2 separate regions of the Homo sapiens genome follow, and region 2 is linked to region 1. Evidence: fine-mapped expression QTL. A gene starts in region 1. The other region holds a variant in brackets. All regions are shown on one strand. Distances are from middle to middle. Region 1 holds the start of ADAMTS15 (ADAM metallopeptidase with thrombospondin type 1 motif 15). Region 2 has its middle 39 kb from the start of ADAMTS15.

Region 1 (5,372 bases):
CCCCAGAGTGCTGTGGTTATGATAATAACCAAAAAAAAGAGCATGGCACAGATTCAAGTCACAGTCCCCCAAATCAGAAGAAGAGGCTCACTTGGATGGCTCTTTTCCTCCCAGCCTCCTGTATCTGAGAAATTTCAAGAATCCAAATACTCCTCAGTGCCCAATCACTCCAACACCTGTGAATCTAAACGTTTGCAGATTTGTAGCTTCTTTGACATAGAATATCAGGAAAGGCCTTGCAAAAGGCAGGGCTGCTTCCTGGGCTGGGTCCATCTTTCTAATCCCAATACTCAGTTTCCTTCTAACTCTACAGCTGGAATCTCCAAATACTCTTGACTAAGCTCACACCACTTCCACCCCAGCAAGGGCAGAAGCTAGAGCCCTGAAGTCAAGTGTGGTCATAGGAATTTTAGTGACTTGGGAGCAGGAGCAAGCATGCCCGCTCTGCTCTGTAGTATACATCTGGGCAAACGGGTCACCCTCTGACAGCAAGGATACAGGAAAATTGGAAGAGATTTTCCCAACTCAGCTCCAAGTAAAACTCCACTTGAAACTCCAAGTGAAACAGTCTCAGCTCCAAACAGGTGCCCTAACTACACCGCCTGCTCAGAATGGTCTAGAAGCCTCTTGGACCATGCCCAGCAGAGAAGTCTGTAGGAGAAGCGGCAGTGAAGGAGGGATGCTCGCAGTACTTGAGTCTGGCCTGTCACTGCAACCCACAAAATCTCTCAATGATTCCCTCCACCCCAATCCAGGCTTTCCAGGCCCAGTACAGAGAGGGGACAACGTGTTACCCGAGAGAAATGTAGCAAGCGCTGACCTTGGATCACCTTCAGTTCTACAACCCTTGAAAGGAGACCTCAGGAGGTGTCCGAGAAGACTCAGCCGCCCATACAATAGGGGTGGGCCGTTCCCGCCCTCTCCAACACCATCCTCACGGCGTCTCCTATCGGTCTTGGACACAAACTGCAGCTCCGGGGCGGCAACTTCCTGGGTTCCGGCCCCTCGGCGCCTGATCCAGGAGGCGCTGATTGGCCGCGCCAGGCCAACACCTTCGGAAAGCGCAGGCTCTCCTCCAATGGCCCAGATGCACGTGAGCCGCCGCTCCGCGGAGCGTGGGAGAGGGCTCTCCCTGGAAACTCCACAGAGTTGGAGTCGGAAGAGATCAACGAGGTTTAAACTCGGAGGCATTGCACGATACAAAGGGGATTTGGAGCGCTAGGGGAGGTGACCCTAAAGAACGGGACTATCTGGGTGCAAAGTGACGGCAGATCAACTCACCTGCCTGGTGAAGAGGATGGCAGTGTCCCAGTACTCGGGGTGCTTGTCACTCACTTTGTTCAGCTTCTTCTGCCAGGCACAGAAGTTGCGCAGCGTCAGGGCCGCATTGCCGGTGACCTTGGGCCCGGAGTCACGATCTCTAAGAAGCAGCACCTTGACCACAACGATGTTGATGGGGTTGAGGATGCTGGGATGGCGGTAGAGTCGCGCCGCCGTTGCCAGCAGCGTCAGCAGATAATGTTCCAGGTCCGCGCCGTGGAACTTGACCATTGACTCGTCCGCGACCACCAGCGTCTCCACGTACCGCGGGATAGACACGAAACGCTTGGCGCGCCCAGACCTGCGCCGGCTACGACTCTCCCCGAAGCCCGCCCGCCGCGGCTTGTAAGGGTCCAGGGCCCGTAGGATGGCGGGGTTCCAGCCCGAGGCCACCCCGCAGCGAGAGGTGGGGTCTCCGGAAGGCCCGCCCGGAACACCCCGGCGCTGGAGAAGGTGTGCGCCCTGGCTGTTGCGCTGCGCCGCCGGCGCGCTAGCATTGGGCAGCGGGCTAATGACATACTCGGCGCCTCGGTAGCCAAAGGCTCCGCGGAGCCCCCCGCACAGGCTCACAGCAGCGAACGAGTCCGGCTCGGCGTTCACGTCCCCAGAATAGAAGCAGCGTCGCAGGTCTGAAGAGCCCCCGGTGAGCCCCTGGAGGGGGACGCCCAGATGCTCAGTGGAGAAGGCGGGAGCCAAGAACTGAGCATCCGGCGTCAGGTGTAGGTAAAAGTCCTCCTGAAATGCTGTGATCTGAAAAATGAGTCCCTGATCCCCGGAGTCCTCGGGACCCCGCCAGTAGTAGCGGCGGCCGTTAATGTCCGGGTCCAGTCGGATGGGAACGACTACCTCCCGCTCTGGCTCAGAGCCTCCAGCGGTTCGCCCGGCGAAAGCCAGGGTTAGGATGCCCAGCAGAAGCATGGCGCCGGGCAGCGCACCGCCGCGCTGTGGGAAGGGGCTGGGCCGGGCTCTCCGGCCGCTGCCGCGGTCTCCGTGCAGCCCGCACTCTGGAACCGCCAACGCTACGGGACAGCCGGCAGTTCCCAGAAAGGAGAGCCAAGGGAGGGAGACTCCTCCCAGGGCGGCGAGCGTGCACCCGGCAGCCCGCGCTTCCTACCTGTGCCTTTCCAAGCAAAGCGCGCCCTGGGAGCTTAAGTACAATCGCTGTCAAGTGCAAGGACGAAGATTTGCAGCCGAGAACTAGCGGAAGGTGCCGGGCGGCTTCTCGCAACCGCAGCCACTCGCAGCGCAGCAAGCCAGGCGCTGGGCGAGCCTATTAAAGGCCCCCTCCTCTTTGGACGGCCCAGTCAGCGCCCCTCCCCTCACTCCCCTCCCAGCCTCCCAGAGCTCGCTGCCGGAGCCTCCAGGGGCCACCGGAGAACTCGGTCCCGCCTCCAGAGCGGAGAGCCACTTGGCGGGGAGGGAGTGGCATTGAGCTGAGGCAGGAGGCGTGGGCTGGCCCGAGAAACCGGCGCTGAAGTCTCAGTTTGCGTTTTGCTCTTGGTTATGCCCCACTGTCCCGACGCCTCACTCGCTTCTGCCCCCGCGGACAGCGTTCACTCTCTGGGTCTTAGTCTTTTATCTCAGGGCAGATCAGGTCAGCAGCTAGGAATGAAGACCCTTCACTGACCCGTCCCCAGGCCCACCTCATCCCTGCTGTTGCAACATCCCTGCTGTTTCTTAATCACAGAGTCCCCTAAAAGACCCAGAATCAAGAACCACCCCCCCCCCCGCGTAAATGTCCTATTGCCAGAAGAGCAATAGGACAGGGGCATGGGAGCCCTCTGGAACCCAAGACCGCCTAGCCCCAAGGTCTGCCCTGGGCCCATGGTGTGCTGGATGGGCTGGGGCAAACTCTTCAGTTCTCAGGAATCTTGCCAGCCAGCTGTTAATCACGGACATTATTAAAAATTAAACTAAACACACTTACAATTAAACAAAGTGTATATATATATATGCACACACACACACATACATATATATACACATACATATATATATATACATACACACACACACACACACACACACATATATATATATATTTTTTTTTTTTTGAGACGGAGTTTTGCTCTTGTTGCCCAGGCTGGAGTGCAATGACGCGATCTCAGCTCACCGCAAACTCCGCCTTCCGGGTTCAAGCCATTCTCCTGTCTCAGCCTCCCAAGTAGCTGGAATTACAGGCATGCACCACCACGCCCAGCTAATTTTGTATTTTTAGTAAAGACAGGGTTTCTCCATGTTGGTCAGGCTGGTCTCGAACTACCGACCTCGGGTGATCCTCCTACCTTGGTTTCCTACCTCCTACCTTGGTCTCCTGAGTAACTGCGACCACAGACACACGACACCACGCTAGGCCAATTTGTGTGTGTGTGTGTGTGTGTGTGTGTGTGTGTGTGTGTGTGTGTGTATTTTTGGTAGAGACTGGGTTTCGCCGTGTTGCCCAGGCTGGTCTTGAACTCCTGAGCTCAAGCAATCCACCCACCTCGGCCTCCCGGTGCGGGGACTACAGGCGTGAGCCACCATGCCTAGCCACAAAGTACATTTTTAAAAGGTAATAAATACTCAAAACCCGTCGCTTCCTAAGTATTTGATAATTACTTATGGTCTTGAGCCACCAGAACCGCCAACCCTCTGAGACAGCAACTCCCAGAAAAGAGTGCAGAATGGGGTGGAAATGTGAGGGAAATATTAAATGGTGTGCTGCCCTGCATCTCCCCAGTCAGGGACATCACAATGGCTTGAAATAGGTCCTGGTAGAAGTATTTACACCACCTGAATAAGCAAATCAGAGCTGGGGTTGGGGGCAGGAAGATGAGCCCTTGTACACAGCTACCTGCCTGGCAGGGATGTGGAGATCAGGTTCTGGGGCTGCAGTTACAAGAGGAAGAGGCTGTCTTCCAGCAAACAGTAGAAAAATCGGGCCAGGCTTCCTCCATGAAATTATCTCATTTGACCCTTGACCAAACCCTGGACTGGGGACTGGCATAGGAGGCCGAGTGAGTATCAGCTGGAGAAGATGCAATCGCACCTTATGTTCCCATCTAGTTTGGAGAACAGCCCAAGGAGTTTTTCAGGCTCTAGACCTCAAGATCCTTCTTACCTCTCCGCAGAATCAACTTCTTTCTCTGACAAGGGAGAAAGGCAAGGAGAGGAGGGAGGCTTTGCTACTCTCTCCTGATACCTAGAAAATCTTTCTGGAGCCAAAGGGCTCTGAGTTGAGTTTGCAAGAGGGGAGGACAAAGAAGGGAGTGTGTGATGATTTTAAGCATAAAGGGGATGATGTGGGAGAATTTTGGAATTTTTTTTAGGGAAGTGGCTGTTCAAGGGAAGAACTCTATTGTCCAAGGAGAGAAAAGGCTGGGACTGGTCCATCAGTGAAGAGCACTTTTTGCCCATTATCTTCTCCCCATAAAGGATCCACTCTTGGAAGCGCCCCCTGGGGCCTTGGAACATGAAGATGGCTCAGATGCCCATAATTCCAGTGAGGCCTCTCCTTGATTGGGACACAAGGAGCTGAAATTCATTATGTGAATGAGTGAGAGATGGGTGTTTATACTCTGCAAATGAAAGAGAGTGTATGGGTATGGGAGGACTGTGTGTGAGACAGGGAGTTCAAGCTTACAAAGGCCCTGTGTGTTTGAGCGTTCAAAGAGGGCCTATAATTAAAGAGAAACGCAGACAACCAACAGCAATGATAAGTCATTTATTTGGGGCAAGCAATTGTTTTACTACACCCGGCAGTTTTAAAGGTGGATTGCAAGGTTTTCAACGGCACTTTACTTTCATTCTGACCCATGGGTTTTGGCAAGGGCTGCAGCATGTCAGTCAAGATGGCAGGGACCTGAGACAGGAAGTCCCTCCCACTTAGTGCTCCCCCTGCCCCAATCACAGCCCAGCTATTCTCACCCCTGAGCACAGAAACTGGCCATGTGGATTTGCTCAAAGGGATTAGCATGTATTGCAGGCTTAGTATGTGCTAAACATTGCACCAAGAGTTATATGTGCATTCTCGTATTTAATGCTTGACTGTCCCCTCTTGGAAGCCTGTGGTT
Region 2 (5,372 bases), 39 kb before region 1:
TTACTTTTTAAATTTTTTTGTTAAAAATTAAGACACGAACACACACAATAGCCTAGGCGTACACAGGGTTAGGATCATCAATATCACTGTCTTCCACCCCCACAGCTCATCCTGCAGCACGTCTTCAGGGACAGTAACAGGCATGGAGCTGTCATCTCCTATGACAGCAATGCCTTCTTCTGGATACCTCCTGAGGGACCTGCTTGCCTGACACTGATTTACAGTAAACACTTTTTTATAAGTAGAAGGAGTACACTCTAATGATAATAAGTATAGTATAGTAAATTCGTAAGCCAGCAACATCGTCATTACTTATGATTATTAAGCACTATTTACCGTACATTATTGTATGTGCTAGACTTTTATACGACTGGCAGTGCGGTAGGTTTGTTTACACCAGCATCATCACAAACACATGAGTAATGCTTTGCACTGCAACGTTCGGAGGGCTACGTCACAAGACAATAGGAACTTGTCAGCTCCTTTACAATCTTATGGGACCACCATTGAACATGTGGACTGTCATTCGCTGAAAACTTGTTACGCGGTGCATGACTGTAGTTGTCACCTAAGAACAAATATACTCCAGGCTTCGCTTGTCCTAAAGCCTTTGATGGTGGGGGCAGGCAGAAGGGATGATTAAAACAGTAAAAATGTCCAACTGGGTGAATAGAGAAAATCTTCCTCCCTCTGTCTTGATTTCATCCTCTGTAAAATGGGGACAATAGTAAGAATAAAAGATCCCTATGTCTATCCTTCCCTCTCCTAGAATCAGTGTAAATGTCAACCATCTTCACAGTCTGTCCTCATTCCTTACCTTCAAATAACTCCTTCCTCCCCTCAACTTCAATAAATTTTATCTAAAACATTCCCACACTTTTTATCTTGTGTTTTAATTAGATGAGCACTCTGATATTCCCTGTTAAACTGTAAATTCCCTAAAGGCAAAAGTGTGTGTTTTATCTTTATTGGTCCACAGTGCCTAGTATATTACAAATAAAGTGAGAAGTGAGTATTTGTTGAAAGAATAAATCAAGAATAAATTAAGACGAGATAGGAGGAAGACTTTTAAAAGTATAAAGCATGGATTATAAAGCGTCCATGCACTGTGTAAACTAAGGTCTGATTCTCATCACTGATGGTGTGATCTTGGGCTAGTACTCTAACCCCTTTGGGTTTCTCACGAACAAGGCTCTATGGACATGGATCACAGGGAATGTGCAGTTGTAGTCTATTTGCTTTTGCTTTTAATTTCCCACTCTGAAGCTTAAAGAAATGAAAGTGAAGGGTGGGTACAATAAAACCTCCATGCCCATAAAGATAACAGGGAGAAATTAGAAATTATAAAGGAAATGGGGGAGATAAGTTAACTGGAATCGCAGGTGAAACAGTCACTCAGTTGAGCCCTAAATTTAGCACTAAGCTTCCTGGTTGCCAAGGCAAAAAGCAAAACTCGATGGTGTTCATAGTTCTTATTGTTAGAAAAAGAGATTATACCAGTTATCAAAAAACACACACCCTTCCCCGGAGCCGTCTTCCAGAAGGAATTACGGTGTCATTCCTTTAAAAAGGCCAGTGAATGTCACTTTGGGCAACATCCCCTGCTACATCACCACAGAATCAGGGAGGCTGCTGAAGAGTTTCTCATCTAGGGGAGCCCTGCTTCCGCTAGAGGGTCAGAAAGGACTGGCAGTAAAGAGCTAGGCCCCAGCCAACACCCGGCACAAAGCAGCTGCAGAAACTAGCCAGTCACGTCATTATTTAATGTTGGCTGATTAGATGTAGGAAAATGCCTGCCTAAAACAACTATTTTCAATCTGGCATGAAGCGGGGCTGTTCTGACAATACTTTGCCATTGAATTGAGGTCTTTACTAAAACAGATCACAACTCCTGAGGGCAAAGCATAGGCCATGATAAAACATAACAGCATAGTTTTACTGTTTATTGTAGCAGAGGGTCACGTGATAAATTCATCTAAAAGGTCATCAACTATCTGCAAGTTAAAAAAAGAGAGTATTACACAGGGAAGGGAGCATGATGTTGAGGAAACAACAACAGCAGGAAGTGGGCTGATGAGCGCCTGGGCCTTGGTTGTTCATTTCTCTCTGCTTTTGCATCTTTGAGTGTCATCGTAAAAATGTTTCAAAACATTTCTCATGCGGGCTCCTGAGGAAAGTGATTTGGGCCCTGTGAAGCACGAGCCAGGGGTTACTGACTGCTCATGGCTGCCAGTGAGACTCCATGAGGCCCCATGTGGCTTTCCCGAGTTCACACATAGACCTTGTCCTCCAGTCCTGGCTGAGGGCACCCAGTGACCTGTGGATTTTGAATGACCCCAGAAGCATCTCCAACAATGAGTTGATTGTTCCCATTCCAGTGGCTGGGCTTAGCTCCCTCCATGCCTGCAACGAGAAACCTTGACCCTCAGTGGAGGTGGGAGCTAGAGGGAGATCAGGGGCTCTGGCCCTCCCTGGAGTTGGGCAGGCAGAATGGGGTGCTGGCCCTAGGGACTGGTGGGTCTGGAATGGGAAGAAGGAAAGAGAAGGAGCAGGAACAGGAGGAAAGGCGGAAACCAGAGGCCTAGGGAAGCCAAGGCCTCTCGCCTGCAGACAGGCAAGTTAGCTTTGCAGAGGGAGCTGCAGACACTGTGGGATGAAGAGGTGGCCCAGCCAGAAGGAGCCTGCGGCTGCAGTCTGGGGTGGAGAAAGGGCTTCAGCGTGCTGGAGATGGAGGGTTGTGACCGGGGAGTGAGGGAGTCATGGCGCAGGGTGGGGATGAACTCTCCCCACAGAGCTAAGTTCAGAGATGCTGTCGGCTGCAGAGCCCTGAGCTTGAGTATGCTTAATTCCATAGACTGGCCCAAGAAAGGCGTA[G/C]GCCGGGATCAGAGGCTAAAAAGAGAGCGCAGATCTGACGCTGAGCCAGGCAGCCCCTGCCCCGGGGTAGCAGCCGGCTTTGCTCTTTCCTCCCTTGGAAGAAAGCAGAAAGAGAACATACTTTGATTGTCCTCAAACAAACACTGTGTTGAGTAAAGAGATAAGCCCAGCCTGGGTTGGCTCAGGCGTCCCCAGGCAAGGGAAGTCACACTTCATATTTCCAACATGAACGTCCCAGATGGGCCGGGCCTCGAACCCGGCAGAAAGCTGAGAGGCTGGGGCCTGTGCCCTGCAGGGAGAGGCCCAGCACGCGAGGGGTGATCTGCTGTGACCCGTGACCGCTGCAGCTGAGGCCCTTTTTTCTGCCAGCCGGGCCTGCGTGTCCAGAGCGTATAAGATCCAATCCAGAAAGAGCCAGGACCCCACCGAGGGGACATTGGTGGCTGATGCTCAAGGAGGTGCCGCCTCCCTAGCCAGGGGCGTTGGAAAAGTGACCTTGCTGGAGGGAACGTTGTCTTCTAAGAAGCTGCCTGAGTAAGGCAAGACGTGAGAGGCGGGAAGGGATAAGGTTTGGGAGGATCCCCTTTCCCGTGCCCATGCGCCCTGACTGCTGCTGCCTTCACCTGCACTGCACACCTGGGTGACAAGGACAACGGGCACTCGGTGCTCTACACGCCCTCTGCAAGCCTGTCAGCCAGGTACTGCTATTACCTCCCTCTACAGATAAGGAGGCCAAAGCACCAGCAGGAGCGACCGTCACTGGAGGTCAGGCATAGTTCACAGGGCCTGGAACTGGGGATTGGACCTGGATCCTTGAGCTGATTCTTGCGCCTCAACCTCTCTTCCCAGATGCCCACCGCCCCCAACCGCGCACCCCTGCAGATGGGACGCTGCCCTCGAGGCTCTCCCTCCGCTTGCTTCCCCCAATGGTGGGGTCCACCCCAGACCCGGGAGCCCCTCCCTCAGTCCCTGCTCCTCGTGGCCCTTCTTGTAATCCTTTCCCCAGACTCCTCCCACCTCCCCGCCTCTGGCACAAATCCCGCAAGTATATGTTCCTCTCTCCTCATCTCTCTCACTAAGAAAGTCAATCCCACAAGACATCCCCCAAAGGAAAGAATGAAATAAAACAGTCCCCCATGTCTAGCCCGAGCATTCTTTTTAATTTGTTGTCAAGTTGGGCTTGCCAAGTCAGTCTCTTTCGATGAAGCAGAGGACTCGGGTGCAGCCGCGGCCCACGCAGGCTCTGAGGTGCGAGCCGCCAGCAGGTGCCGTCAGGGTGGGCACGCACCGTGGACACACAGACAGGGGCCCGGCCCACGCATGAGACCAAGAGTGCAGAGCCCAGGATGGGCCAGCACCATCACTACTCATGTAGTGGCCACAGTGTCACTGACCAAGTGTCAGTGTGGGCTACCAGGGACCCACAAAGAAAACTGTCTTGCAAGACCCGGGGAAAGGGACAAGAATCTACAGGTGCCTTTCAGAAATAATCCATGCCACCGGGAAGCAAGTGCCAAAAAGAAGCCAATCTCTTGGGTGGGGACAATAACCTAAGAAGCTGTCACTTGTCTCCGTGGTGAAGCTATAAAGAAGCTCTTGGTCACCAAAAAGGAATAGTGAGGAGGAAACCTGTCAGTTTCCCACCTGGTGCTGCAGACAACACCTAGCCATGACAGGTATTCCTGTCTGCTTCTAGAGACATCTAGAATGAGCCAGTGTCTGCGTGGCTTGGTGACACTTCCCTTAAGTAATTCTTCCTATATCTGTAGTTCCTGAGCTGCCTTCCAGATTTAATTTTCCAGGTAGGTTTTATTACAAAAGAGAGGCGAATATAACAACAAAAACGTTGCTGTGTCTTGAATTCTTACTAATATCTGCTTTACAGACATTTCTTCATTAAGCAGTCGCAACAGCCCTGTGAGTTAGGGTTATTTTATAGACGAAGCTGTATCTGCCTATTGTGAAGTTATTTACAAGTAAACGTTGGTCTAACTACTTTTATTCCTCATTCCTCTCTGCACGTTTCAGGGCAGTCCCTTGCATAAACGGTAGAATCTCAATTATTTGTTCAATTAAACTGAACAAGATTTAACAACACTCTGGGATTAAGAACGCCATACTTCTTAACATAAATTGCATGTAAGAGCTTTTTTCCTTGTCTATTGCCTTTCCATGGTAATAAAAGTAGCTAATATTCATCAGTCTTACTAGGTGCCAAGCACTGTGCCAATGAATGCATTCCATTCGTTATCTGATCTATCATACAAATCTTATTATTTTCTCCATTATGAATGCAGAAACAGAGATCTAGAAAAGCTGTTCCAAAGTAGCAAAGTCAGGATCTGAGCCTGTGCTCAAATCAAGAGTCAGACAATCTGACTCCAGGTGCGTGCTCTTCATCACTAAGCTAATACCAAAAATAAAGCATAAAACAAAAGAAATTCATACGGTAAAGAAATGGAGGGAAATCACCAGAGGTCATTCCTATACCGCCACAT

Evidence for each region. PIP is the estimated chance that this variant, and not a neighbour inherited with it, causes the effect.
Region 2: its variant is the best candidate, but not a certain one, in a credible set for the expression of ADAMTS15 in lung (TOPMed, PIP 0.75).

What each region holds. Positions count from the first base shown.
Region 1 is chr11:130,445,840-130,451,211 of GRCh38, reverse strand. ADAMTS15 (ADAM metallopeptidase with thrombospondin type 1 motif 15) reads right to left here and starts at 2,567. Exons shown (of 8, transcript NM_139055.4): 1 at 1,282-2,567. The coding sequence starts at 2,238.
Region 2 is chr11:130,484,972-130,490,343 of GRCh38, reverse strand. No RefSeq gene overlaps it. Among named protein-coding and RNA genes, the nearest start is that of ADAMTS15, 39 kb to the right of the region's middle. The variant G/C (reference allele first, on the strand shown) is at 2,875.